2 separate regions of the Homo sapiens genome follow, and region 2 is linked to region 1. Evidence: fine-mapped expression QTL. A gene starts in region 1. The other region holds a variant in brackets. All regions are shown on one strand. Distances are between the middles of the regions. Region 1 holds the start of TRAF3IP3 (TRAF3 interacting protein 3). Region 2 has its middle 8.6 kb from the start of IRF6.

Region 1 (15,009 bases):
ATCCAGGAAGAAGATGCCCCTCCATCCCAGCCAAGTTTATCATGGAATTCCAGAATGTCAGAGCTTAATACTTTCTGATTTGACCCCTTCAAAGTGAATATGTGCTTACCTTATCCAGAACTGCAACTCCGTAACTGGAAAGAGAAGAAATTAAAAATAATGATAATGGACCAAAGAATCAAGTCAGGAGGCAGTGGGTTGATTCCTTCTGAAGAGCCAGTAGGGTGGGGAAGGGCTTCCTCTTTCTTAATTAAGGCGGACATGGAAATTCATTGTGTTCTCTCTAGAGAGGAATGGATGGGATGTGAGAGGGTTAGGGTCAGGAACTCACTTGGTTTGCTGACTGGCATCGTTCTTAATTGTTGGTCCTTCTGCCTTTGTCTGAGTACCTGAGAGATGGAGGATAAGTTGATTTAGAACTTACAGGGAGGAAGTGAGGGAAGTGGGGAGGGACAGGGACTCTCCATTGCCAGTGAGCTGGGACAGTTGTCTCAGGATTCTCTGCAGGCCCTGTGGAGTGAGGGAGGCTCTGCTCTTACCACGGTGGTGTTTGGGTGGCTTCTTGATGGGAGTGTCCTGTGGAGGAAGGCCCCCAGCCTGTGAGGAGAGGTGGTCAGACAGATCCCTGCAGATGCCTGAGGGAGGAGGATGCTGGGCTGGAAAGACTTCAGAGCTGGTGCCTGTCACCTGGAAGGCAAGTGGGGAATGCTGAAAACCACTGCCTGGAGCCTCTTGAAAGACTCTCCTGATGATTTCGGAAGGAAGAACTAACCATCATGTTTGTTATGGACTGAGTGTTTATTGTCCCCCCGCCCAAATCTGTGTGTTGAAATCCTATCTCCCAATGTGATAGTATTAGGAGGTGGAGACTTTGAGAAATAATTAGGTCAGAGCAGGTAGCCCTCATGAATGGGATTAGTGCCATTATTAGAAGAGACACGAGAGAGCTTGCTTTCTCTCTCTGCTCTCTGCCTTGTGAGGACACAATGAGAAGAAGGCCATCTGCATAGTGGGAAGAGTGCTCTCATCAGACACCAGATCTGCAGAATCCATGGGTTTAGAACTCCAGACTCCAGAATTGTAAGAAATAAATTTCTGTTATTTAAGCCACCCAGTCTGTGGTAATTCATTACAGGACGAAGACAATGTTTCAGATCCACAAAACCAAAGTAGCCCACTCAAGCTTTCAGAGCCACACAGGCTTCTCCTGCTCCTGATATCCTTGTCCTGACTGGCAGAAATGGTCCTCCTCAGGCCAGGCATATGTGGAGCTGTACTTTTCTCCAGGTTTTCTCTCTAGAATCTCTAGTTGTTGTTTTTTTTTCTCTCTCTACCTTGTTTGGTTATGGCCACTTACATAGCCAGCATGGTGATGTGGAAAGAGAACTGGTCTGAGTGGGGAGTGAGGGGATCTGGGTTCAGATCCCATCTTTTCTAGGTCTCAGTCTTCTGTCTGTGTAGTGAGGAGTTTGGAATAGATAATCCATAAGGTTCCTTCCATATTCAAAGGAAAGCCTCCTTTCTCTTAGTAACAGCTAGAAAATCATTGAGGTTTTGTGTGAAGACTAGGTAAAGTGGGGAGTTGTGGGAAGGTTTTTTGCTTTAGTATACAGTTCCTTTTCTTTTGCAACTGGGCTCTAGGATCATTTCTCTGAACAGCATCTCCTATTGAGCATAACAGATCCACTAGTTAAGAAGCCCTGATAGAGTACCCACTCTGGGTAGGGAACAATGCCAAGCATTACCATGGAACATAGTGGACACATCCCTGCTGTCAACATGCTCACAACTTCAGTAGGAAGATGGTTTGCTGGCCAAGGTCATCTCAGCATACCCTGGTTTTTGCCAACATTGTTCCTTTCCAGGCCAGACTAATGGGCCCTCTAAGGGTTACACAATCTTAGAAGATTTTAACCTCACAAGGCCCATAGACAGCAGAGGTGGCCTGGAGAAGCCAGGGAAAGCTTCCTGGACCAGATGAGGCTATAGTCAAGTGATTTAATAGAATTGGAATGACACAAGAGGAAGTGAGAAGAGTGGGCACAACAGCCTTGCAGAAGAAAAGAGGACAGATATGTCTGTGTGTGTGTCAAGAAGACTGGCCTGTGTGCTTGGCATATAATAAGCTTTCAGTAAATATTTGATGACTGATGGATGAATGAATGCTGTAAGATAGCTGTAGAAGACATGTGTATATTGCCTAAATTTGAACTGATATAGGCATTAGCTTTGGAATTATTTTTATTTATTTTATTTTTAAGTTTTTTAGAGATAGGGTCTCCCTCTCTTGCCCAGGCTGGAGTGCAATGGTGTGATCATAGCTTATTGCAGCTTCAAACTCCTGGGTTCAAGTAATCCTCCCATCTTTGCCTCCTGATTAGTTAGGACTACAGGTGTGCACCACCATGCCTGGTTAGTTTGTAAAGTTTTTGATAGAGACAGGGTCTTGTCTCTATCAAAAGGCTGGTCTCGAACTCCTGGCCTCAAGTGATCCTCCTGCCTTGGCCTCCCAAAGTACTGGGATTACAGGTATAAGCCAACATGCCCAGCCTGAAATTGTTTTTAAAAATTATTTTTTCTCTCTTATAAGTCAAGTGCAGAACAAAAAGAGCTAAACAAACGAAAACACAACAGCAAAAATCTCTGAATAAGTAGCTGTTGGCAACTTTACTATAAGTAGCTCTTGGCAACTTTACTATATGACTGAGGAAGAAGGACTTGATTTAGGTCACTTTTTAGTGACCTTGAGCCCACCCACCCTCCTTGTCCAGAGAGGGTCCCAGAGCACACAGCAGTATGTCCCTTGACACGGCCCACCTGCTCTCTGGGAGAAGAAATCCTTCTGGCACAAGACAAGGGTTCCTTGAGGACAGTCACCTGTCCTGGCCGCCTGGAGGGCCCTTGCTCCCTGGCCTGGGGATGCTGCGCTTTGCCCTTCTCCTCTAGCTCCAGGTTCCTCCTCCTGAAGAACTGCTGCAGTCGAGCTCTCTGGAGCTGCTCTCTCTGTTGGATCCTCAGCGTCTTCCCCACCTGGCGGCAAGTGGTCACATTGGGACGGCAGCGGCGGCTTTCACGGATCTCTTGCCTGCGCTCACACTTGGCCTCATAGCTCTCAGCCCACCGGGCCAAGCCAGGGGAGGGCCTGGGGTCTGGGCTGATCATGATGACCTCCAAGCACCTGTTGCGCTTGGCTTCCAGTTCCTGGAATAGATGCCTGGATCTGCCAAATGCCAAGAGGGAGGAGAAGGGGAGGGGTCAGAAGATGGGCAGAAAAATGACTATCTCCCTAGACCAGGGGGCAGAAATAGCACAGAGTTCCATCCATGTGGGTTGAAAACTGAGGACATGGTGGTATCAAAGTGGGAGTCAGGACTCTTGGGCTCAGTCTCTAATGAACTAATACAGTCTTATAAAAGTGAATTCCTGCTTTTCTCTAGCCGATGTTTCCCCTTTGTAAAGTAAAAGGGTCTCTATGGCTGCCACTTACTCCTTGACTGAACATCTTACCATGCCTCTGAGTCAGGGGAACATGAGAAATAATTGATTAAAATCATAATGAGCTTATAGCCTCTTGGATGGCAGGTGTGTGTTCATTTTCCAGACTTCTAGAGAAGCAGCTAAGTTGAGCCAATCTGCCCTCTTATCCCCCAGTTGAAAAGGAAAGTCAGTATCTTTACTGGTCTCTTGGTCCAAGCTGTCACTAACATAGTTGAGTGACACTTCTCAAGGATCTGGAGGGCTAACCACACCCCCTCAGGTGGTGACCAGTCCTGTGACCAGCACCCACTGCTCTCTTCTTGACTTTTAGCAACGAGCTTGTGAGCCTGGACCTGGCATGGTTTAGGAGGGAAACCCTACCCTAATTCCTCCAACCTGCTGTCCTGACAATGGTCCATGGGCCCCCCACTCCAAGCTCAGGACTGGGCTGTGTCTCTCAGGTGCAGATCAAGTCCAATCAATATTGACTGAGCATCTGCCACATGCCTAGTGCTGGCCAAAACCCATTTCAGAGCATCTGGCTCCAATACTGTTGGGGCTGAGGGTTCCATTTCTTTAGGATTACCAACCTGTCAGGGTTAATGTTGGTGCCAAGTCTGCTTTCCTTAGCCCAGACACAGATTGTGCCATCCAAACCCACAAGCACATGAATTGTACCTCAATAAGGCTGCTGCAAACAGAAAAGAAACAAAACAAAGACAGTAATCAGAAGTTTCCAGGGAGCCAGGCTTGGTGTAGGGGCCACAGGATGACCCTCTGCATGGCCTTACCTGATATTCACATAGCACCTAGACCTGAATCCCCTTTTCCTTCTCTGTGCCTTTCTCTTTCCTACTCTTCCCCACCTACCTTCTGTAGTTTATCCTCCTAGAACCCTCTGGTCACTTTGCTGAGTTGGGCTGGATTTGGATGAGCTGGATCCTGAGCGTTGGAAATTCTGTGTCCTGCCTCCTCTGATCACTGGAGTCAGACCAGGGACTGATGAAGGAAGAGGGACTCCCCCTCACAGCTGCTGCTGCTTCTCTTCCTCCCACGACCTCATTACCCACCACCCTGGGAGGAGGGTATCTCAGCTTCACCAACTAGCAGGCATTTGCTAGCTCTAACCCCTTGGGGTTTATTTATAGGCCAAACAGACTCAACAGGTAGCAGACTCTCTGCCCCTTTACTGGGACTTCGCTACTCTGGCTCAGTCTGGAATTCTCTGCAGGATTCTTGTTTTCTCTCTGATCCTACCACTCATTCCCCAGGGTCATGGGTGGGGCAGTCTTCTTCCCTGAGAGGAGTTTTGTGTGGTCAAGCCCTGGACACTCAAATGCCTGACTCTTGAGGGTTGGAGGGGCATACTCTGGTGTCAGGCAGCATTGATTCCAAGCAGAAATGTGAGGTTATTAATGTTTGTCCTCTACATACCCATTCTGAATGGCTCTCTTCTTTGTTTTTCCTTACTTCTTCTTCTCGGATAAGGGTGGGAGTGGGCATAGGGGGTGGTCCCTTGACTTCTTCCCTGCCACTTTCTTTATTTAAAGACTTAAAAGAAAGGGTCTGAGAGACCCATGTCTATTGTTATAAATGACTGAATGGAGGAGACGCAGGATTATGTGCATGTGAACTCCATGTCTAGAACCTACACTCACAGCATCCCTGAGCCACAGCCCCTGGCTATTCTGCCATGGATTGCAGTGGAGAACCCTGGCTCTTGGAGTCACACTGCGTGGACTCATGTCCTGGCTCTGTCACCTACAACCTGTGTGTGTTTTTAGATAAGCTATTAAACATCTCTAAGCCCCAGTCTCCTCATTTATAAAATGGGGCTAGGACCTGCCTTGTAGGTTATAAGGATTAAATGACAAAATGCAGGCCATGCACCTGGCATGGAGCACACAATAAATGTTACCTTTTAATAATAAAGACATAAAGTATTCCTATTAGGTTGGTGCAAAAGTAATTGCGAATATTATCCTTGTTATGCCGATGTTGGATATTGAAGACTTGGTGCTGTAAGACAAAGGCTCCAAGCTAAACTAGCACTTCTAGGACCAAGAATGCCTTCTCTCATCCTCTCAACCCTCTCTCTCTTTGACAGAGTATATTGTTTACCAGATTGAGGGGATGCTGGCCCCAGGCTGAAGTCACATTTACTTCTGACCTCTGGGTTTGGGCTATAAGGAGAAAGGCTTCTCTGTGGTCTGGACATAATTGCCATCCCAATTACACCAAGCCGAAAGGTAAGGAAGAGATGGGGTCTGCCTGTGTCACACATAAGGTGTGAGGTCCCCTCCCTGTTTGGCTCAGCTTCCCCACAGGTTTTGTAGTGGAGGCAGAACATTGAGAATCCTCCTACCTTCTTGCCGCGAAGAGGAAAGGGCTGTGGGGGAGAAGACAGTGCCTGAGATGAGGTCTCTCTGGGCTCTCCACCCAGGCCACCAACCTTAGTCCACTGAAACACACAGCTGCTCTGCTCTCTGCTTCCTTGGGGCAGACATGGAGCCTTCTTACCCAAGAAAGGAGCTGCAGTGGAAATGGCTCCTTAGAGAGGGGAGTGTTCCCAGATGCCTTGGCTACCACACCTGCTAGGATTTGGTGCAGCATGCTGCATAGAACCCTACCCAGGTTTCTGGGATATCTGGACCCTACTGACTTGCTTGAAAACAAGAAGGTATGTGGGACGGCTGACAGGGGTAGGCTGCTAAAGAAAAGGGAACTGGTCCCTGTAGGGTTCAAAGAAAGATCACTTGGCCACTGCCCAGGCTTTCTGGCATCTCTCAGGTTCCCCCCTGGCAGCATGACTGGGCTCACTTAGAGCTTGGAGGAAGAAGGTTTACTGGCTGGGAAGGCTCAGCCTGGTCTCTCAGGCTGCAGAGAGAGAACAGGGCATGGCTCCTCACCTGACTGTGGCTTGACATGCCTTTCTGAGTCTCGCTTTTACTTCCTGGCCATGTTTGTAATGGAGACAATGAATGGCTTCCTGCATGGGTTGGCCTTCCTGGCCCAGAGCTCTCAGTGTGAACTGAGGGGAGAGGGGCCTGCGCTTAAGCTGCTGGGAAGGCAGTCTTGTGTTCAGGGATCCCTGCTTTGAAGAAAACTGTAAAAGGTCATTTAATTCATGCCCATATCACTGGGTAGCCTGAACTCTAAGTCGTTTGACTCACTCCTAATCTAATGTAATCTAATCTACTGGAACAGAGGAGTGGTGCAAGCTGTACCCTGTGCCATGGCTAGCGCCACAGGAAACCAATACAGGATACTTTCTTGGTTACCCAAACCCCTGACACCCTTAAACTATGCCACCCACTCTCCACCCAGGGGAGCTGGGATGGTAGAGCATCTTCTGCCCTACCCCGAAGTTGGAGTTCCCAAACCTGGACACAAAAGCATCCTCCTTCTCAGTTACCTCCTAGTCCCAGGCTCCAACTCAAGCCACTCGGGAAAGCATTCCAGTCCTGGGCAGATCTTGGCTCTGGTCTCAGATGGAGCAAGACAGCAGATGGGTAAAGCACACGCTTTCAATCCATAGGTCTGGGCCCCATTAACACGTCCCTTCTTGGTACCGTCTTTCTTTTTGCACAGCAGCCTTGCTGAAACAGGAAACAGACAAAGCCACAAGGTTCGCAAACCCCAGTTCCTCTCTCTTGCTCTCTGGTATCATCTAAGTGGGCCCCTGAACTCTGAGGCCTCCAGGGCTGGGCTCAGGAGCTCCTCCCATCAGTAGGCACCCCGGCCACCCTTTCTCTTGCTACTGGATTGGTCGGAGCTCTTGGACAGTTTCAAGTCAAGATTCCTTTCCATGATTAGAAAAGGATAGTCCTCTGGGTCAGATTCAGACCTTTGTGGTTTCTATGAGAGGGAAAAAAATGCCTTTTTGGTGGTAAGACCTAGATGAGATGTTCTCAGTGTAGGCTTTCATGTGTATCAGGTAGTTCTTTGTGTAAGGATTTTCCTTTTTCTTTAGCCACCTCTTCCCAATCCTGGTGTTGTAAAGAGTTTCTGCTCTTCTGAAGTAGGTGGTGTCTTTCTCAGATTCTGGAATGAGACCAACTCTGGATTTGCTCCTTTCTGGAGCAATGAGGAGGGAGTGTAAAGGTGGGTAGCTGGGGGATGAAGGAAGGAATAGAAGGCAGAGTCTTCTACACATTTTTTTATCTGGTCAACCGGACTAGGAAATTTAGGGAAAAACTAAAGGGAACTGATTTGCATGCATTAAGATGAAGCCATCACAAATGATGCAGCCAGGAAATTCCCAAGAAGTTCAGGCTAAAATAGTGGAGAGGAAACTGGATTGGGACAAGTTAACTGAGCAGCTTTGTAACCTTGTAAAATTCACCTTGTCTGGATGCTACTCACTGTGGTAGTTGGGTGATGTATGTGGCTCTTTGGAATTCTAAGGTTTGACACATGTGAGGCAGGTAATGAGACTTAAAAATAGCTGTGATAACATTTATTAACATGTGGAGAGTTTGTCACCATTTTCTCTGCTTCTGCTTCTTTCTCTGTTCTTTGAGGAGAAAAAGGACAAGGAATCGGCAGGGAAAAGCAGAGGATGGATTCTCAAGCACTAGGACTGAAGACAAGTGGCATTTACTCAGGATGAGAGACAACAGCTCAAGGCCCTGTGTCTGGAGCTTGACACATAGAGATGGGAATGAGTAGAGGACAGAGGGCTTGGGGAGCCCAAGATGTCAGAAAAAGAGAATTTTGGCCGGGCACAGTGGCTCACACCTGTAATCCCAGCACTTTGGGAGGTCCAGGTGGGTGGATCACTTGAGGTCAAGAGTTCAAGACTAGCCTGGCCAACATGGTGAAACCCCATCTCTACCAAAAATATAAAAAATTAGCCGGATGTCATGGCATGTGCCTGTAAACCCAGCTACTTGGGAGGCTGAGGCACAAGAATCGCTTGAACCTGGGAGGCAGAGGTTGCAGTGAGCCAAGAATGTGCCACTGCACTCTAGCCTGGGCGACAGAGTGAGACGGAGTTTCACTCTTGTTGCCTAAGCTGGAGTGCAATTGCGCGATCTCGGTTCACTGCAACCTCCGCCTCCCAGGTTCAAGCAATTCTCCTGCCTCAGCCTCCTGAGTAGCTGGGATTACAGGCATACGCCACCATGCCTGGATAATTTTTTGTATTTAGTAGAAATGGGGTTTCAACCATGTTAGTCAGGCTGGACTCAAACTACTGACCTCAGGTGATCCACCTGCCTCGGCCTCCCAAAGTGCTGCGATCACAGGCATGAGCCACCACGCCTGGCCAGAGAATTTTTATTGGCATAGAAGAGTGAGAAGATTCTGGGAGTTCAGGGCATTAGAGCGTAAAGAAAGACAGGAGATTTTAATAGGAGTTCCTATAGAGACCTACTATTTGGACTCCATTAAACATCAGAAAGAAATGTCTACAAAGTCCGCAGTCATTGGGATACTAATCCCATGATAACTGGGATTTAGAGTGGTCAATGATATGCTCAAGATCACACAGAAAGTGTTGGACCCAGGTTTGCTTGACAGTAGGTTTGAGCCCTTAACATTGTGTTCTGAGAACAAAACAATTAATAAGGTTGTCATACCTATCTATCTATATTGAAAAAGACACACACACACACACAGAACTTTGAGAATAGAAAATATACCTTATTTTCAAATGCCCACGAGACATTAAAAAAATTGACCATATGGATCAAAAAGTAAACCTCAGTATATGTTTTGAAAAGTTGATCTATTATGGCAGGATTTTCTGACCACAGTACAATACAATTGAAATAAATAACAAAAGATGGAAGAAAGAAACACTTTAACTTCTTGGAAAAAAATTCTTCCCATTTACTCTGAAAAGATAGAGGGAATTTCAAATCTGCAATTAAGAATGCATTGAAAACGGTGATAGTGGCAACATTATGAGGAAAATCTGTGAGGTATGGCCAAGCAGAATGCAAGGAAAATTCCTAGCTTTAAACATTTTCATTACCTAAATCAAGAAGATTAAAAATAAATTTCCTATTCATTTATTTTCAAATGAATTGCTAAAAAATGATCAGAAAAAAAGGAGGTGAGAATTTTGAAATGATAAAAGGAGAATATATAATAAGTTAGAATCCTGTTTAAAATTGATAAAAAAAATTCAGTTTTGTGTGTGCATCTGGCAGGGGGAGGAATGGTAGACATACAAATAGAAAACAAAATCAATAAAATAAAATATCAGCGAGCCAAATCAATTTAAAAAAGAGAAAAGACATTATAAAAGTTTAGGAATGATACATGGAAAGTAGCCACGATACGGTGGAAATTAATTATAGAGAGTCATTTGTGTAACTATGCTAATGATTTTTAAAATCTAGATAAAATGGATTTAAGAAAATGAATTTACCAAATTAAGCTCAAGTAGAGATTTGTAGTGTAATCATCAGCTGGCCTCCAATAGAGGGTTTAATTCAGGCTGCTCTTGAGCTGGGCACCAGGCTTTTAGTGGCCAGTATCCTTTGCTTCTCCTCATCATTTCCAGGTTCAATGGGAACAACGGCTCCCTTTTTTGATGGTCATATTCTGAAACAGTTTCCTTGATAGATGCTGGGCCCTGTGTAGTCCCCCATGAGGCGATGAGTATGGGGTAAGCTACCCTTTCCTTTATAGCCTGGTTGCTTCACAATACCACACAAGCATGTGTAAGATTATCAGATTTTATTGTACAGTTGGGGTAACTAAACTATATGCTAATATGACTTCTCCCATACTCCAAGAGACAGCACTAAGGAGTTAAAAAAATTTTTTTTTTCTTGAGATGGAGTTTCGCTCTGTTGCCCAAGCTGGAGTGCAGTGGCATGATCTCAGCTCACTGCAACCTCTGCCTCCCGGGTGCCTCAGCCTCTGGAGTAGCTGGGATTATAGGCATGCACCACCACGTCTGGCTAATTTTTTGTATTTTTAGTAGAGACGGGGTTTTGCAATGTTGGCCCGGCTGGTCTCGAACTCCTGACCTTAAGTGATCCACCTGCCTTAGCCTCCCAAAGTACTAGGATTACAGGCATGAGCCACCATGAAGTTAAACACTTTATGGGGGTCCCCTCATGGGTGTTACCAGTTCTAATCCCACTCCTCTTTCCACTCTACAGGGTGACTCCTACCTATCTTCTGGGAAATGGCAACCTCATTCATAAGAGTTGTTCTTGCCTTAGAATCCTTCCCTACACTCCTGACAAGGTTTCTTCAGCACCGCATTCCTCAAGTCTAAGTTATTCATTCTAGAATAGTGCTGCAGACACTCTTAATAGGATAGTCCACAGCGGCCTTGGCACTCCAAATTTTGCAGAACAGCTCAGGGCAGGCATACTTAAGTCTGTTCGCATTCAAGTTCAAGTTCTCCTTATCAGGTGACTTGCAGACTCTCCTCCTTAGTTTTCCAAGTGTCTAGCTGGTAACTGTTTACTCAGATGTCCACACAAACATCCCAAAGACAAATATTCATTCTCAGAGATGATACAGTCTAAACTCACCAGGAGGAAGACAAGTATTTCCTTGACTCCTACGTTTGCAAGGTTGCTGCTCTGTCGAGTTATGACTGTACATTTGTGGCAGGACAGAGTTCTAAGTCCTCCTCTTGTCTTTGCTTGCTTTGTATCATCATTGTTGGTAGAGAGCCTTTTCGTGTAATGAAACCTCAAATTTATGCTGTAAGAGACTTTCAATATTAGCAAGAGATTTATCTGTTGTTTAGATTCTAAGAATCTGAAAGGCCTAACCATAAGGCTCAAATAACTGTGGATCCGTTCTTGTGGGTCCAGCATTGAGCAAGGGACAAGTTACTTTTTGTTGTAGGCTCATAAGAAAGGTGGTCTCACTGGCTGTGACATTGAAGGGCCTTGACAGGCTGCAGCCTCAGGCTTGGGGGTGAAGGTGGGGTAGGTATAGAGGTAGGAGTGTATGTATATTAGGAAACAGAAAAGGAAAGAGTAATGTAGAACAGAAAAAGGGGGGCCTCCCAGGCACCCATCTCTATTTGGACGGAAAGGACAAACCACAAGTTAATCTTCAGAGAGCTTTCATTTCTCTTCTTTATCCTTCATTTGAGGTTCTGTACCCTTGACTCCTGCCAGAATATGAAATAGGGCTGTTCCTGAGTTAAATATCATAATGACTTGTCTTCTACTCATAAAATGCCCTTTTATAAATGAAAAATTACTGCTTTTTAGAGCTCAGCCGAAGCACCACCCTCCTCTCCCTAGTGTATGTGTGAGTTTTCCAATAAATAGGACTCCTAGTTTGTGGCTAAAAAATCACATTCTTTTTTGAGATGGAGTCTTGCTCTGTTGCCCAGGCTGGAGTGCAGTGGCACGATCTTGGCTCACTGCAACCTCTGCCTCTGGGTTCAAGTGATTCTCCCACCTCAGCCTCCCGAGTAGCTGGGATTATAGGCACACGCCACCATGCTGGCTAATTTTTGTATTTTTTAAAGTAGAGACGGGGTTTTGCCATGTTGGCCAGGCTGGTCTCAAACTCCTGACCTCAAGTGATCCACTTGCCTCGGCCTCCCAAAGTACTGGGATTACAGGTGTGAGCCACCGTGACTGGCCCACATTCTTTATTTAAAAGATATTCTTACGTAAATTACTGAGTTTCCAAAAATTATCATTCAACAGAAATAACAAATATGAGGTTTCTGTTGATTAAAATATACTTCTACTTACTTTTTGTACGTCATGTTTTTTCACATAGCCTAGGCAGTCAGAGCCATGATCAATGTCTTTAGCTAAGAATTCTGAGAGCCTCAGCACTAGTAACTGTACTCATGAATACTCCGATATTGGGGATGTTGGCCGTCTAACAAAATTAGGTCATTTAATAGTGTGATCCTCTTTCTGAAACTGACAATTTTCCTTCCTAGTTAAATTGTCATCTCTTGGCACAGCCTCAGTTAAACTATCCTAATTATTTCACAAATGCCTTCACATTCCAAACTGAGATATCTTCCAGAGACTTTTCTATACATTTTATACATTTCTACACAAACCTTTAGAATCTGTTTTATACTCAGTATGATTTATCATCCATAACAAAGAATATTAAATTGATGCTGTAACACTGAACCAAACTGATTTCACCAAAAGTGCTCACATATTAGATTGCCATCAGCACTCCCTGCACACGCCCTCGCCCCCGCCTGCAGAGAGAAACTTTAGGGTTTGCTTAGAAAACTAAAGGCAGATGGACAGAGAAATGAGTTGGAAAGCATTCGGATTTTCTTTTTTTTTTTTTCAGATTTATACAAATTTTAATATAATATTACTAAAAGATTTTTAAAATAGAAAAATAATTATCTTAACCTACTACCCAAAGACAAATTAGTTTCATATTTTTCACACTACCTTCTAGTTTTTGATAATATGCATTTCTTTTTAATAATATTTTAAGCATAGTGAAATCTACATTTTTGTAATATGTAATTATATGAATTGTGTGTTTGTTTTTTCGCTTAATACTATATTATAAATATTTTTTGCTTTTACATTTTTTCCATTTTTTTAGCTTTCACATCGTCATGGTCTTTCATAATATTAGTGTACCACAACGTGTTTAGTAATTTCCTTATCATTAACCAGTAGCCACGTGACCCAGCATTGCTCAGGATAATAATTAGCCACTGGCAAATACAATGCAAATACAACTTAATATACATAATAAAAATTAATATGTTATAATAATTTTCTGTAATTGTAATAATTCAGAGCTGTGATTATGTTTAACTTTGTAACAGGATTACTTTATCTATCACATCTGTCATCTATACTTCAAGACTGTTGCTCACTCTGAAGCTGTCCTGAGTGGCAGCCTGGGGCTAGATGGGCAGGGACACCAGAAGTCAGACTGCCTGGGTGTGAAGCCTGGCTTTGCCCCTTACTATCTGTTTGAGCTTAGAGTGCATGAACACTACGTTTGAGGTCTTTGCATCTCAGTTCCCTCCTCTGTAAAATGGCTATAACCGATAATATCTACTTTACAGAATTGTTATAGGATTACCAGATATAATACTTGTAAAGCATTAAGAAATGTGAGCTATCACTATTAGCAACACCTGCAATTTGGAGCATCTGTCTTGTGATTTATTAATGGTTATGATGAAATGGACTTGCAGATCTGTGGCTGTGTGAAAATGGAGTAGTTTCAGTGAGTCAATGCATTTTGTCTGATCTAAACTTGTAAGTTTTAAAACTCATTTAACTAAGTTTTTTAAAGAATGTGTCTTGCACTGTTCTCCATGGAAGAAAAACATTTGAAGTGGCTCGTAGTGTTTCTCACTGTGTGTCATTTAAATTCCATTTTAAGTTAGACCAAAACAAATGTGTTCTGACTAATAATGAGAATCACAATAGCACCTGTCTCATAGGGCTCTTTTGATGATTTAAATTAGTTAATATTCAGTAGAATAGTTCCTAAATATAGTAAATACTATGGAAGTGTTTGGTAACACAATAAAGTAAAAATAAAAATATTCCAATGTTGCAGTGAAACTCGTTTTAGTTTGCATGATATAATTAGGAATTTTATTCATGTGGAAATTATATAGAGGAATTTAATTTTATTTAATTATATGGAGATTTTTGTCATTTCTAATTTTTAGCTTTTACAGATAATGCTGCCAATGGGTATCTTCATGCATGCATTTATTTGTTTTTCTTCTTTTAAAATACTTTCTTTAGGATAAAACCTTGGAGTGGGTTTGCTGGAGAAGTTTAGTGAAGAAGTAGGTTAGTTCTGAGAGCAAAGATTTCCAGGAAGTGGGTGGGAGGGAATCAAGCTGGGCTTTAGGGCATGGTGGAGATGGCAGGGTCAGTAGAGCTGGAAGGCTCTCTCACCAGCTTGAGAGCTCAGTGCATTGGGTGTCAGCAGGGGGCAAAAACAGCGTGGTGTAGGGCAACAGGCAATGACTGGAATCCAGTGAGCTGACTTTTAGATCCGTCTCCGCCTCTCTGTTGAAATGCAAGGCTGTTTTGCCCCTGTGGGTCTCCGTTTCTTCTAAAGCCTTTCCCAGTATGAGGGTCTATGAGTTCTTTATTTCTTAAACATTAAATACCTTCTAAATGCCTAAAATTGCACTCAGTACTAGAGATGCAACAATGAGTACAATATAGTCAGTATCTTCTCTTAGTTACAGACACACAAGGCAATTTTCAGGTAAATTTAAAAAGTGTGATAAACTCAAGTGATAAACAAATACAGAAAACTGTAGAGGCATGGGATAGAGGTGGGAGCTCACTTGCCCCAGCCTTGAGAGGTGGACCGGGTGGAAGGGAAGGAAGTTTTCCTGGAGGAGGTAATGGTTGGGCCTAACCTTAAAGGAGGCCCAGGAGTTAACCATGCAATGGGGAGAGTGAAGAGCGCTCAGGGCAGAGGAGATGGCATGGCCAACACACAGTGGGATCATCAGGGTGCTTCAGAGGACTGGCAGTTCTTTGTCCTTGGGGAATCAAAAGCAAGGCAGGTGGCCCGAGATGTGGCTGGAGAGGCAGCCAAGGTCGTTGTACATCA
Region 2 (15,009 bases), 59 kb before region 1:
TGGTATAATTATCATATTTTGAGACTGTAATGAGTTCAGTTTACCAGAAACATCCATGAAATCCACACTATCCATGCTGGTCACTATGCGAATATGGTTATAATATGATGGAATCACATGGGTGAACCCAAGGGTCCAGCTCTCCACAGCTCTTAACTTCTTATGTTCTCCCTTTATCCCTGCGGGCTCAGAAACACTGCATCCATCTGCCCAACAAGTGCCCAGATAATTCTTATTATTTATTTATTTATTTTTTTGAAACAGGGTCTCACTCTATTGCCCAGGCTGGAGTGCAGTCATGTGATCTCAGCTCACTGCAGCCTCTGCCTCTCTGGTTCCAATGCTTTTCCCATCCCAGCCTCCCGAGTAGCTGGGATTACAGGCGTGCACCACCACACCTGGCTAATTTTTTTTTTATTTGTATTTTTAGTAGAGATGGATTTCGCCATGTTGGCCAGGTTGGTCTCGAACTCCTGACCTCAAGTGATCTACCCACCTTGGTCTCCCAAAGTGCTGGGATTATAGGCATGAGCCACCATGCCCAGCCGATGTCCAGATAATTCAATTCACATATTAAGCTATAGATAGATTCCCCTTAGACATCTAAGTGGAAAGGTCCAGGCATGTGGCACATCTGGAGTTCAGGAGAGAGGTCCAGGCTGCCAGGATGACCAAGCATATCTGAGAGTGGTCAGTGTATGATTGGGACTGAATGAGATTACTTAGTATAAATATAGAGAAGAAGCCTGAAAACTGAGCCCTGGGGTAGCTGCGAATTTAAGACACAGGACAGATGAAGAAGAACCAGCAAGGTGACTAAGGCAGAGCAGCCACTGGGGGAAGAGGAAAGCTGGTGTTGTCTCCCATTTATGGACTGATCCTTCTTAGGAAAGGCAGGTTTACAAAAGAGTTAAGACTGAGGATGCTGGACTCACATCGATCTGGATTCAAATCCTAGTGACGCATTAGTGCTAAATGACTTTTACACCTCATACAGGGGACTGGGTGCAGTACAGAACCTGGGGAGTGTTTGTTTGCTGAGTAATCGTTGATTCTGTACCACTGCACTCCGGGGATATATTAAGTGCCAAGGGAATTTATGTGAAAGAATGAAACAAAGTCTCTGGCCTCAGGGAGCTCACAGTCCAGAGAAAGGGAGCAGTCATAGAAGCCAGTGATTCTCCACAACATCACAGTGTGATAAATTCTCTCATGAAAGTGTGAGCCATCACTGAGGGAACAGAGAGGAGGGAGTCATTAGTCCAGCCTAAGGTGGCCTGACTTACATATGACGCATTTTTTTTCTTTTTTGCCTGTTATGTGCCATTTTGCCCAAGAAAATCACGACTCTTCTGAGCACCGTTGATTAATTTATGTGATGGCTTACAAGAATTTGTTTATTTTTGGAGGGGGAGAAATAAGGGTAAAAAATCCCAAGGGTACAGATTGTGGTCCTGCTTTTTAAAAAAATTCAGTTAGGAATTACAATCTTGAATGAAACTGAGTCTATAATTGCCTATTAGCCCAAATCAATGTTCTCTGCCTTTTGGCTGTTACCAAATCACTCCCTGGTGTAACTTTGACATCCCAGCCTTAACCCCTGAGACTATTACATCTGGTGTGGTAGGCTTCAGCGATTTTAATGTTTTATTTGGGCAGTTATTTACCTTCCATTTTGGGGGCAGCTTTTCTTCTTTAGACAGTGAAGCCCCTAAAACACCAGCTTTTCTCATATTTACTTTAACAACCATACCCACTTCTCATGAACAAGATTTTCTATCATTTTCTTGTACTTTTTTGTTTCTTCTTACTTTCTTAGTTAAGCATTCATTCTGGCTAGAACTAAAATTTTTAGAAATAAAATTTATAACTAAAAATGTTCTTTCAGCTGGGTGCAGTGGCTCACGCCTGTAATCCCAGCACTTTGGGAGGCTGAGGCAGGCAGATCACTTAAGGTCAGGAGTTCAAGACCAACCTGGCCAACATGGCAAAACCCTGTCTCTACTAAAAATACAAAAATTAGCCAGATGTGGTGGTGTGTGCCTGTAATCCCAATCCCAGCTACTCAGGAGGCTGAGGCAGGAGAATCACTTGAACCCAGGAGGCAGAAGTTGCAGTGAGCCACGGTCACACCACTGCACTCCAGCCTGGGCAACAGAGTGAGACTCCACCTCAAAAAAAAAAAAATAAAGAGTCCTTTCATGAGTTTATTATAAATTCTTGCACTGGAAATTCCACAAAGGCAGATTGCAAAACTGGTTGTAATTCAGTGTTGAATGCAGTGGAATAGTATTGCCCTTATTCTGCTAACTAATAGCTCCTCTAGCTCTATCTGAAGACACAATTAGGGATTTGGGAGCCAGATAAATGTTGGATAATTTTGTTCTCCAGCCCTAAAGTAACTGTAACTGTAATTCCTTTGATGGCTAAGGTAGATGACGGTGAATGTATTTGGGACAGGACAGGTTCTAGTGCTAAGAGAGATGAGGGCAGCCTGGGCCAGGTCTGGACATTGTCTGCTGGAATACAAAGAGAAATTTTTTTCTCAACCACACAGGAATATACCCTCAAACCCATGTTGGCTCTTCAAGAAACAAAAACACTTTAAAAATCATTAAAGGAAAGGAAATCCTGAGAATTCTGTATTCCTGATTTAAAAAGTGAAGACTCTAGACTTTTTTTCCCAAGAAAAGATAGTTAAGGTTTATTTCCTAAGTAGGATATGCTATTTTAAGAATAATCATTCTTAAAAGTTGTCTCTGTGTTTCAGTCTTTAATGAAAAGGACTGAGTTTCTTTTAATGTGGGATTCTCAGTGAGGCTGAGCTTCTATAGGGTTAGATTAGTAGGAAGTCCATTCTTTCCCCTGGTTTGGCCAAGTCTCTCAAAAATGCTAACCCAGTCCAAAGGGTCAGTCCTGATTACCCTCATCTTGAGTAGTTGCTGTTGAAATCTGGCTGTGTTCCAGGAGGCAAAAGCAGACATTCTCCCCCATTCTCCCCTTTCTTCTTTCCCGGGTCCCTGTAACTTGTGATACTCTGCTTCATGTCTGCCATGCAGGACTAGCTGTCAATGGCACAGCTCTTTAGGGTCCAAACTCTTCAGTTCACAAGTGCTAGCCATTTCCCTAGCAGTCCCATAGGGTCAGGTGAATGGGTTGGAAGGAGGTGTCAGTGTCAGCTGCATGCTGTTTCCAGAACCAACTCCCCGTCTGATGGGTTCTAGGCCCTCTGTCACCCGTCCAGAGTCTCCTCTCTCATGGTGAAGCTATTTCAGAGGGCTTTTCACCACTGTCTGTCATTGAGCCTCTGTCAGAGAATCCCTTAATGACATGTTCTGGTAACCCTGAATCTCAAAGAGGCCAGGTCAGTTATGCTCAATTCGGGCTATGATTATTGTTATTGAGCACTATTTGCTGTCTAAGCCTCAGTTCCTATTAAGTTAAACTGAATGAAAGAGAAAATGGGTGGGGAAGAGCTAGCTCTGCTGCTCCCAGATGAAGGTGTGCGTGTGTGTGGATGCATGGATGTGTGTGTGTGTGTATGTTGCGGGGAGAGGAGCAAACTTTAAAGACCAAGCCCTCAGAGTGCTTTCCTCTGCACTCTAGGGCTCTTCCCTCTCATGATTTTCCAAGAGAATCTAAAGCACAACCAACATAAAGGTATTAAAAAATAGATTCTGAGTGACAGATAAATTTTATAGCCTCTTGCTAACTTGCCATGATCATAGTCTAGATTTTTTTTTTTTTGAGAGAGAGAGTCTCACTGTGTTGCCTAGGCTGGAGTGTGGTGGCATGATCTTGGCTCACTGCAATCTCTGCCTCCTGAGTTCAAGCAATTCTCCTGCCTCAGCCTCCCAAGTAGCTGGGATTACAGGCACCCGACACCGTGCCTGGCTAATTTTGTATTTTTAGTAGAGACAGGGTTTCACCATGTTGGTCAGGCTGGTCTCGAACTCCTGACCTCAAGTGATCCACCTGCCTCGGCCTCCCAAAGTGCTGGGATTACAGGCATAAGCCACCATGCCTGGCCCATTTTGACAATCACAACAGGCCAAATTCTAATCACATTGTAGGTATGCCAGGAAACCCCAGAGCTGTCTGGTAAGAGCCCTGGAAACCCAGAAAGAGACAGAGATGCTTCTTTGGCCTATCAGGAATAGATTAATTTGGCCCAACCCAATTAGTAACACAACATCTTCTCTATGCTGGGCCACTGGGGAATGAAATGCTGCAGCTCTTTCTGTGGAAGAGTTTATCATCTCCTTGGGGAATGCAGAAGGATGCACTCCTAGAAATAATTAAGACAACAGACTCTGTGCAGGGCTTCTGGACATGAACTTTCCTACCCTGGTTACCATTGCATGACCAAGCTGCTTTAGCAGAGTAATGCTTACATGTTCTTTGCCTGGTCACTCTGCACAGCCACAGCCTGACTCTTGGAATCAAGGAAGCATTTGCTTCTAGTGGTCAGGGCATGTGGGATGAGAGGTAAGACCACAGCAGCGGACATCCTTTCTGACTGGGTGCAGAGCTAAGGTTGAAATGGTAAAGCTTTGGGATTTACCATTCACGAGGTGTTTTCAACCCAGGAAAGCAGACACAAACAGGAGAGATGGGGTCCTGTGTCTGGAGATCTGGGTGCCCTGTTTTGATGAAGAATCATCTGAAAGGTGAAACAAACAAAAAATATGAAACAACCTCTATATCTAAGTCAGAATGGGGTGGGAACAGGGACTGGGGCTAGGCTTGGGTTAGAAGTGGTGTCCATCTCCTGGGAGAGTGTGGTGGGGATTTCATACAAGAAGGGAAGTCCCCCAGTTTCCTATGGGACTATGAGACAAATTGCTTTTAATTATGTTAATTACAACAACAGAGCACTCCACTTCTCAGGAGAGCTTTTCATCTTCAAAGGGGCTCCAGGATGGAGCATTAACAGTTGTCATGAAAGTCTCTGGAGTTTGAGAACTGAAGTCAAAGGAGCCCTAGCTATGTGGGTTGGGGCCCGTGTATGCCCTGAAAAGCCAATGTCTAAGGGATTCTCTGGCTTCAAGGTTAGGAGCAGGTCAAGGCAGGGGTATATGTCTGGGAATTAGCCCTACCTCACTGAAATCAGAGAGGCAAAGGAATGGGCGTGCCAGCCTCAGTCCAGTTCCCTCAAGCCCCGACTCCCTTTATTGGGATTGCCAGTAAAATCAAGGATCCCCAGTTAAATGTGAATTTCAGATAAACAACAAATAATTGTTTAGTGTATTCATGTATTCATTGTTTATCTGAAATTCACATTTAACTGGGCATCTTGTATTTTTATTTGCTAAATCTGGCCACCCTATCCTATATGCTTCTCTCCCCCAATACACACACACACACACACACACACACACACACACACACACACACACACGTGTCTCTCTCTCTCACACACACACACACACACACGTGTCTCTCTCTCTCACACACACACACACACACACGTGTCTCTCTCTCTCACACACACACACACACACACACACACAATGAGAGGCCCAGCTTCCAACCTGACAGACTCCTACCTGAGAGGTCAGCAAGCCTAGGCGTGTTCCCCTGGGGCAGGGGAACAGAACTCTCTAGACCTGCCCAGGCCCAGCCTCTTTCCCTCCTGCATGTGGGAATGTGAGAAAACTCCTGTCTCAGTTCTCTAGGGGGAGGATCTTCAGGGCTGGGCAGCTGGACATATAGTGCATCCTTCCCAACACCTTTATTTACCTTGGAATTTGAGGATGAAGCAGCCTGAGGAATGGACTCTCTAAATCTTCCTGATCCTTCCCTCCCATCCTTCCTCCTCTGTTTGCTTAGCTTACCTCCACTCCATGGCTCTTGTGGCTTAAGGGGGAAACCTTTGGCCACCCACCCCCATTGCCCCATACTGCTGGCATGGAAATTCCTCTGTGACAAAAAACAGAGAGAAAAGGTCACTGGGCTGAGATGAGCTTCCTGCCTAGGCAGTGGAATCCAGGCTGCCAGGACGGGTCTGGGCCTGAACTAGAAATGCTGCCGGTTTCCCGGGCTGGGTGGGGAAGAGAGGACAAGCTGGCACTTGCCACAGCACAGAATAGTAACTGGGAGGTTGCGATGCCTGCTCTGAGCCTGAGCGAAACTCTCAGGGCCTCCAGACATTGACGCAGGTAGAGAGGTTCCCAGGCCCCAAAGCTCCAGATTCAGCCCCTGGGCTCAATCAGGGTCAAGGATAGAGCATGCTGCCTTCTTCCCACCCCCAGGACAGGCAGATGGTCACACATGTTCACATTCTGGGGTATTACTTCAGGCCTTTGGGTAAGATTAACATTCCAAAGCTCCAATCCTCAGGTTCCCCTTCATGACCTAATAGAAAGGGCATGGAGTCAGACAGATCGGGCAGAATCAACTTCCTACTCACCATTTACCAGCTTTGAGACCTTGGATAAAACTCTTAAAAACTAAATTTT[T/A]AAAAAATCCCCTGATGAACCAAGCTGAGTAGCTGGCAAAGCTGTGCAGGGGATTTCCAAACAGAGAGGGGCAGAATACGCAGCCACAACTTTTCCTTCAAAGCGCAAGATTCTGGAACAATTCCAGAAAAGCTAACATAGGTAAATTACTCTTAGATTTGTATTGGGGAACAAGAACAATAACAACATTCCCCCTGTGAATAGCCATAGTTGGTAAAACATGCTAGTGTTTCCTTCCCTCCTTCTCCTTTCTTAATAAATCAGAAGTGCATGAATTAAGTATCATACACTTAGCTCATGGGCACCATTTAAATCATTACCTGGCAGTTATGAAGAATGTGGAACACTGAAGTTCTTTATTAAATGTTTATTGAGTAACTGGCTAACTAGAGGAAGAGAGAAAGGAAGGGAGGAAGAAAGGAAGTATCTATTTTATTTCAACTGAGTAGGACTTAGTAGAAATTATGACTCTTATTTTACTTTTAAAAACATTTATTTATTTATTTACTTTGGCCATTTCCACTCAAAGGACTGACTCTTATTTTAGAAGCCTCCAGTGCTGGTACTGTATTTCCTCAAATACCCCTTTGCTAGGTCTACTGTTTCCCTACCACCTTCCATTTCTATTCTGCAGCAGCTGTGCCCAGCTCTTCTCATAGTGTTTTGTAAATAGTGAACTAGAGCAGACAAGAGCTTTGAAGCTTCCTGGCTACCCCAGGGAATTAAGCTGGCAAGGCACCTGGCCAGCGTAGTCTTGATGGGTCCTTCTTTGGATTCGAAAGGCCCAGGAGAAACTGCTACTGCTAGCAGCAGCTCAATAGTATGCAGATGTCATTGTGCTGGGGAGGGACAGGTGGTGTGTAGGCAGCCTTGTCTCTGATTCTTGGGCCTGAACAAAATAAGAGGGGTAAAACAGTCTCAGAAGGATCAAAAGTTTCCCAGGGGATTGAAAACCGGGTGGAGTCATGCACAGGACATTGGTAACATGTGGGAGCAGCCCTGGGATAGGGGGCGATAGAAGGGTCTGATGAAGCACTCTTCCTACTCTTATTCTATGTCTCTTGCAAATCCACTTGCCTATTTCGAAGTTCAGGGATTTGGACTTGAACTTGAGCTTGACCACTTCTCATGTGATCCTGGGGATTATCCTTTATGGGCCTTAGTTTCCTCAAGAATAAAATAGAAATGCTATCACTAACCCACACACATGCATTTAGCAAAGATACGTTGAACACCTAGTGTGTGAGAGGCCCTGAGAACACAGTAGCACAGACAAAGCCTCTGTCCTCTTGGAGCTAATTCATACTCCAGGAAAGAAGCCCCCAAATGGCAGCTCCTGTGGGGTGTTTTATATGGCTCATGTAATTAAAAGTTAAAAAATGCAAATGTATAAAAAATTAGTAGATTTTACATAAAAAATCTAGATTTCCCAGTGGCAACATTGGACCTGTATTTCTGTCCGGCAGCCGTCAGCCAGAGCTTAGTGGCTGCTTCTTTTAGAAAGAAAGCACGCTTTCCAGGTAGCCACAGTCCTCACCATTTCTAGACACTCTTACCTTGCCCAACCTAAACAATATTTTTGTTTTTTTACCCAAAACTTTTCAATGCCCCTCACTGTAAAGAGGAGAAAGTCCAACTCTTTGATGTCACATTCAAGGCCTTCCTTCCAGTTCTGTTTCCTGCCTAATCGATCCCTGCAAATGCTACACTTCAGCAAACTGCAGTTTCCTGACTATCCCATGAGGTACTGCTGAACTATTATAATATTATCCTCTTTGCCTGAAATGCTTTTTTTGGTTCTCCTTTTCTATCTAGAAAATGGTTACTGAACTTTAAGGATCATCTTAAACATTCCCCTCTCCTTTTGTGAAGACTTCTGCTGAGAAAATACTCAGAGGGTCATGTGAAGATCCTCAAAGATGGAAATGGTCCACTTGAGACCAAAAGGCCATCAATGGCTCTACATCCTATGTTTGATTGGGCACGGGGCCCTCCAGCTGGTCACAATTTGTAAAAAGCCTCAGCTTTCTCAATAAATGGGAACAAAATATGAACATTAAAAAAGATGTCTGTAAATGAACTTAGATAACCATGAAAAGTGTTTGAATGGTCATTAATGCTTATTAAGCAGTAGCTATTGTTCCAGCTGTTGTTATTAATATTCCAAATGGAGGCAACTTCATTAAAGATGGTAGATCAGCAGATGCAAAGCATATTCAAGGAAGACAAATTTATTATGGTTGAAGGGTAGCAAAATGGTAGAAGATATGGTTGGAAAAGTAGGCTAGGGCCAGAGAGGGGCCTTCTAACTGGTCTCTCTCTGCCTGACCTTTTTCTACCTTCTAGCTTAAGCACAGCAGCCAGATTAATTGTGCAAAACAAGTTACCTACGTCACTCCTCTGCTCAAAAGCCTCCAGTGACTCCCGCTTACTCTCAGAGTAAAAGTTGTTACCTCTCAGACCTCATATGCCCCACCTCCAACTCTCCCCTTGCCCCAGCCACACTGGCCTCCCTGCTGGTCCTTTAGTGGGGCAAGTATATTCCTGCCCTGGGGCTTTTTACTTGCCGGGCCCTCTTTCTGGAATAATCTTCCCTCTGATACCCACTTGACTCCATCACATTCTTAGCGCTCTACTCAAATGTCATCTTCTCCCTGGTTAGTCCACGTAAAATTTGGATCCACTCCACCCCCTCCTAATCTTTTTCAGTTGCCCCCTTGTCCTTCTTAGAACTTGCCATGGACTTACATACTTTACTTGTTTATTGCCTGTCTCCCCAGCTAGAATATAAGCACCACGAGGGCAGAAATTTTTGTCTGTCTTGCTCACTGCTGTGTCCCCAGCACCTAGAACAGAAATTTGGCACATAGTAGATAAACAATAAGCATTTGTTGGATGAGGGAATAAGCTTTCTTGATTCAGTAAGCATTAGGAAATCACAGAATGTTTTTGAGCAGGACAGTGATGGGACTGGAGCTCACAGAGGGCTGTAGAATAGATTGGAGTGGGGCTGAAAGCTGGGAGTTGGGAGGTAGTCACTATAGCAGAAGGGCACATATGTGAAAGTTTAAACAGAAGGCTTTCATAGGAACAGGAGACAATATGTTTCAAAAGGGTGGGGATTCTTCTGGTGTATAGTGCTCAATAAAGATTTACTGAAGGGTGAATGAAGGAATGATGTTTGTGTCTCATGTCAGGTAGACCCAGGGCCCTGGTCTTGGTCTGTCTTAGAAAAACCAAAATCCTATTTGCTCCTGACTTTGGGGCTCTCCTGGTCAGGGGTTACATGAGATTGTTATTGAAAATCTCTTATTTATATATACATCTCCCCTTTCTTCTTTGACTGGGCTAACCCTCTGTAGCATCTAGCCACTTCTTAGGCCCAAGCTTAGCTTGGACAAAGCTGAGATTCAAGCTGTAGAAATTGAGGTGGGGTTTAGGCTGTCAGTGTCTGGGGCAGGGACCAGATAGAATCACCTTTTTGAATGTTATGCAACTGGAATTTTAGGCAATGTGGAGAAATTAGTGTGGCAGGTAGTCCTTAGGCCTTCCCTGGCCAGTCCAGAGCCACTCAAGAGAGTGGAACTCCCCATGGAAACCATCTTTACCTTTTTCCACAGAAGGCCAGGGTAATTGGATAGGAGGCCAGTATAGGTTGAGGCTGAGCATTGGACTACATGAAGAGAACATTCTGACAGTGGAGGGGTGAAGGGTGGGGCTGCTACTTGGTCAAAGAACTTCTGGTTTCTACCCTGTCTTCCCTGTCCCTTAGCCATATCTCCTCAAGGGAATTCTTCACTAGGCTCTGAGAGTCACACTTGGGCCTTGCTCTTAATCCAATCAGCAGAGAAGAGATACTTTGTGTCCTCGCTGTCCCAAGAACAAATACACAGTAACACTGCAGGTTTTAATTAAGTGAATACCAGGTGCCCTGAACTGTGCCACATCCTTGCCTAGAGTTGGGGAGGGGGATGCAGCAATAGAGAAGAATGATATTTTCTAAGATGTGGTATTGTTTTATTTATTTCATTGAATCCTATTGTCAATCCCATGAAATAGGCAGCATTCTCATTTAGGAGGTGAGTAAACTGAGGCTCAGACTGCCTGGACAGTTAGGAAATGAGAGACGGGAAACTGGAGACAAATTTTGACTCATTCCAAATCACAGTTAGTTTTTCTGATGCAGCTCTGCTGTCATGGAGTGCCAGAGAATAGTCTGACACCCAGGTCTCCTGACTCCCCAAGTGCTCTTTCTTCTTTCTTGAAAACAAGTAATGATAATATTTTCGTTAAATAGTATATAAATCTGCTTTAAGATTTAACCAAATAGGACTGAAAGCTTTATAACCAAATCATCAGCCCCCACACACATCCTATTTTTGTTGAAATAATATTTTGTCTCCTATTATTTTTGTTGAGCTCTCTCATCCATTCTTATCTCGACTCTCATGCTTTTTGTCATCTCTTAACCTTATAGATTAATATGTTTTAAAAAAATTCCTTCACTGTCATTGATCACCTGAGGTGATCTGGGGTGGTGGGGGGTGGGAGAAGAGAAAAGCACATTTGGTTAATCACTCATATTGAACAGGAATCCAGCTTCTTGCCACACTGCTCCCCGAAGATTCTGTACTCCTGGAGTCTTCATTTTCTGAAATCGACACATTGTCCAGTGCTCTGTAGCTCAAACTGAGCCTAACACTCTGCTAGTTCCTGTCTGGCCTGCACCTTGCTGCCCTTAGGGCTTGACTGAAGCCTGGAGAGAATTATCTACACAAAGGAAACAAAGAGCAGATAACAGCAGTGATGGTCGCTCCATCTGCACAGCACTCCACCTGTTTCAGAGAGCGTCCATATCCACTATCTCATTTCAAAGCAGCATAGAGTCACAGGATAGGTTGTTTGGTGCTGACCATGAAGCCAAAATCCGGCCACTGTTTTGTCTCAATGGGGAAGCAGCTTTGAATCAGAACTCTGAACTCTCACATTCATGGTGGTTGTAGTTTCTTCAGCTCTTTTGTCTGCAGAGCCAATGAGAAAGCTCTCCATGCTGGGGAAGATGGGAAGTGGACCCTCAAGCTTTGGAATGAATGGGCAGAAGAATGAAGGGAGGGCCCCAAGGGGGAGCTTACTTCCAAATAATTTCCTGGGCTTTGCTTTTCCTCCTTCGCCTCCCATAGAGATCCAAGTTTGGAATAAAAAAAACTGCTTCTTTGAGAACACTTTCCAGTGCTCAGCTTGCTTCAAGGATAAAAAGGGTCTTCTAACTATGGAAAGACTCAGAAGATGTTCTGAACACTTTGGTGGAGAATTCTTCTAGAGTCCAAAGCCAAAGTCTGTGCCATTGCTTGGATTGGAAAGTGAGATTCTTTTATGCTTCCTGCCATCTTGGTGATTCTAGAATTTGGAGGCCATTATAGAGTGCAACAACCAGAGTGCATTCAGTTTAGGCTGTGGCTTAGGCAATGTGTTAGGATCACCTGTGGCCCTGATGCTTTAAGATACTTGGATGGAGACAGAGATAAGCCAGGGCCAAGAGAAAAGTGAGGGTAGACCTGATGGGCTCCAGAATGCCTTCCAGAAGGAAGGTTGGAGTCTGATTTCCTTTGAAAGCACAGAATTGGATTGTTTAGTGCAATGTCCCTACCTGACTCTTTAGCAACTCCACCAAAGGTGCACAGCTTCTTTGCTATCACCAACTCCAGTAACACTAAACTCTCCACTGTATGGAGCCTTTGGGAGGAGTCCCAGTTGCCACGCTTTCTGCTCTGCCAAGAAGAGAGTGGGATTTGGGTTCATGGTTTTATTGTCACATGTCTGATATTGTAGAGTTTAAAGTCTCTGGGTGGAAAAAGAAACTCTTTCCTACCAAATGAGAGCTGACTGGGAACAGGAGAGGGGAATTCCCTCATTCCCTGTGGCTGTGAATCAGGGCCCCCGTGCTGAAATGTACGTCCCACTACCTGAAACTCAGACTCACTAGTGAGTCAGCAATGCCGCACCTGATTATCAATGGAGGGCAAAATGATGGGAGCATTGCAGGCCCAGGGCATGTTGGGAATGACTGAATCCTGAAGAGGCTCTTTTGAGAATACAGAAGAACTGATTCCTCAAGAGCTTGTGGAAAGACTCACAAGATGTTCTTATTCCCCAGATCAAGCAGATGAGGCGTGTATCAGAATAGAAGACATCAGGGTGGCCTATTGTCAGGGCTTGTTGCCTGCAGAGCCGGGGAGTTCCTCCTGATCTCTACCTTAATTCCACCTGCTTTACCCCCTTTCATTAATTCTTCAGTTGAGTGACATGAGAGTAGGGACTTGGTTTTGTTTATGGCAATATCAACAATATCAACAGTACCTAGATCCATGGGTGATTTTTTTTTTTTTTTTTTTTGAGATGGAGTTTCCCTCTTGTTGCTCAGGCTGGAGTGCAATTGTGCAATCTCGGCTCACCGCAACCTCCACTTCCTGGGTTCAGGCAATTCTCCTGCCTCAGCCTCCCGAGTAGCTGGGATTACAGGCATGCGCCACCAAGCCTGGCTAATTTTGTATTTTTAGTAGAGTTGACCATATTGGTCGGTCCGGTCTCCAGCTCCTGACCTCAGGTGATCTGCCCGCCTCAGCCTCTCAAAGTGCTGGGATTACAGGTGTGAGCGATTGCACCTGGCGATTTTTTTTTTTAAATCGTTAACAGCCAGTGCAGAACAGGTCAGAATAGACTTTGGCTGCGGAGCTGAGCAGGGGTCCAAGTGGATAGAGCCCCGGGTTTGTGTTCTAGTCTTGGTTTGTGGCTAATATGCCATGTGACCTTGAGTAAATCACTTGACCTCGCTGGGCCGCAGTTTTCTCATCTATGAAAAGGGAGAATTTAGACTAGAAGTTGCAATCAGATGCCTACAGGGTCAGGCAATTAAAGTAAATTAGTGAGCTCAATAGAGTGAGTTTGTATTGGCTGTAACGTGTAGACTCCCTCTAAATGGGCAACTGTTGCCAGGTAGAACTGCTGGTAGAGCATCCAGGGCACTTGACTCTTTAAGAGATGCTGAGAATTTTGATGTTTATGTGATACCTCCTGATATTTAAAATACTGTGTGGGTAAAAACTGGCTAAGTCAGTTTTAGTCTTGATCTAGATAGTCCAGAAGAACCCTCCCAGCTTGAGTTTTCTGATTCCAAAATATATGTCTTCTAAAGAAGGTCCTTAAGACATCCCCTTAGTCATGGGAATTTCAGCTGGTGCAAAAGTGAGTGCCTGTGTGTGGGCTCATACTTGTATGCCACTGGGGTTTTGACTCCCCTCAAATGACACTCTCCCAATGGCCTTACCCCTCATCCCTCTCATACACCTGCAGTGGAGCTTGTTTGGTCCCCAGAGCCCAGCCCTGGGCCAGATGGAAGATGCTGTTTGTCTAGTGAGCTCATCAGCAGTAAACAGCTAGCTGTGCTGATGAGCTTGCCCTTCCCCCAGTGAAGGGAAGAGTGGCCACAGGGCAGTGGTTGAGACAGAGGCTGGCTGAGTCAGGCCTTGGGGCCTTGCTGCCTTCCCAGGCCTTTGCTGGCTACATTCCAAAGCTAAATTGGGACTTGGAATCATGCCTACATTATTATCAATCTGGGGCTCTTCAACACACTTGTATGAGTATGCTAGGGCTACCATAACAATGTACCTCAGAGTGGGTGGCTTGAACAACAGAAATTTTTTGTTTCATAGTTCTGGAGTTTAAAAGTCTAAAATCAAGGGTCTGAGGGATGTGAAAAAAAAAAAAAAAAAAAGAGCTCTATTCCAGGTATCTCTCCTTGGGTTGCAGCTAGCTGTCTTCTCTTTATGTCTCTTCATATCACCTTCCCTCTGTGGGTATCTGCCTCTGTGTCCAAATCTCCTCCTTTTATAAGGACACCATTCATATTGGATTCAGGCTCACCCTAATAACCACGTTTTAACTTGATTACCTCCATAAGGATCCTGTCTCCCAATAAGGTCATATTCTGACATCTGGCTGTGGTTGCAGTGGGGGTGGTCAGGACTTCAAAATACAAATACAAATTTTTTTGTATGTGGGTGACAGTTCAACTCATTGTACCACTCCTCCACAGTTTCTCACTCATTACTTTAAACACCAAAACCTAAGTGACCTGCGCATGCCCCATTTCACCTACGACAGCTCAGTGGTTGAGGGTGGGGGATTTTTAAAAGTCTCATTTACTGTTGCACAGCCTCCTGCAAACCGGTCCTCTAGATAGATGAGGAAGGTGAGGGCAATCTCATCAAGCACCTGTTAGGGTACATGCAGGACTTGAATTTCAGGTAATAACAAGGAATGCCTTCTTGTTCTCTGACGCACTGTCTATATGGTATTTTTAATCTTTATGCCAATAATAATTGCAAGTACATATAAAGCACTTGATAAGTGCTAAATATTGTTGCAAGCAGTTTACATGTAGTTATTGAATTCCCACAATACCCCTGAGGTAGGTACTATTACTAACCTCTTTCTACAGATAAGACACCAGGGCCTAAAAAGCTTAAGAAACTTTCCCAAGTCTGTAGTA

Evidence for each region. PIP is the estimated chance that this variant, and not a neighbour inherited with it, causes the effect.
Region 2: its variant is fine-mapped to the expression of TRAF3IP3 in whole blood (INTERVAL, PIP 0.91).

The regions. Positions count from the first base shown.
Region 1 is chr1:209,748,193-209,763,201 of GRCh38, reverse strand. It overlaps TRAF3IP3 (TRAF3 interacting protein 3), which reads right to left and starts at 7,149. Exons shown (of 17, transcript NM_025228.4): 1 at 6,893-7,149; 2 at 4,068-4,168; 3 at 2,818-3,220; 4 at 540-687; 5 at 332-389; 6 at 110-134. The coding sequence starts at 3,162. RefSeq lists enhancers at 6,577-6,986, 7,267-7,426, 11,110-11,219, 14,980-15,009.
Region 2 is chr1:209,807,200-209,822,208 of GRCh38, reverse strand. No RefSeq gene overlaps it. Among named protein-coding and RNA genes, the nearest start is that of IRF6, 8.6 kb to the right of the region's middle. RefSeq lists enhancers at 5,730-6,504, 6,481-6,650. The variant T/A (reference allele first, on the strand shown) is at 6,462.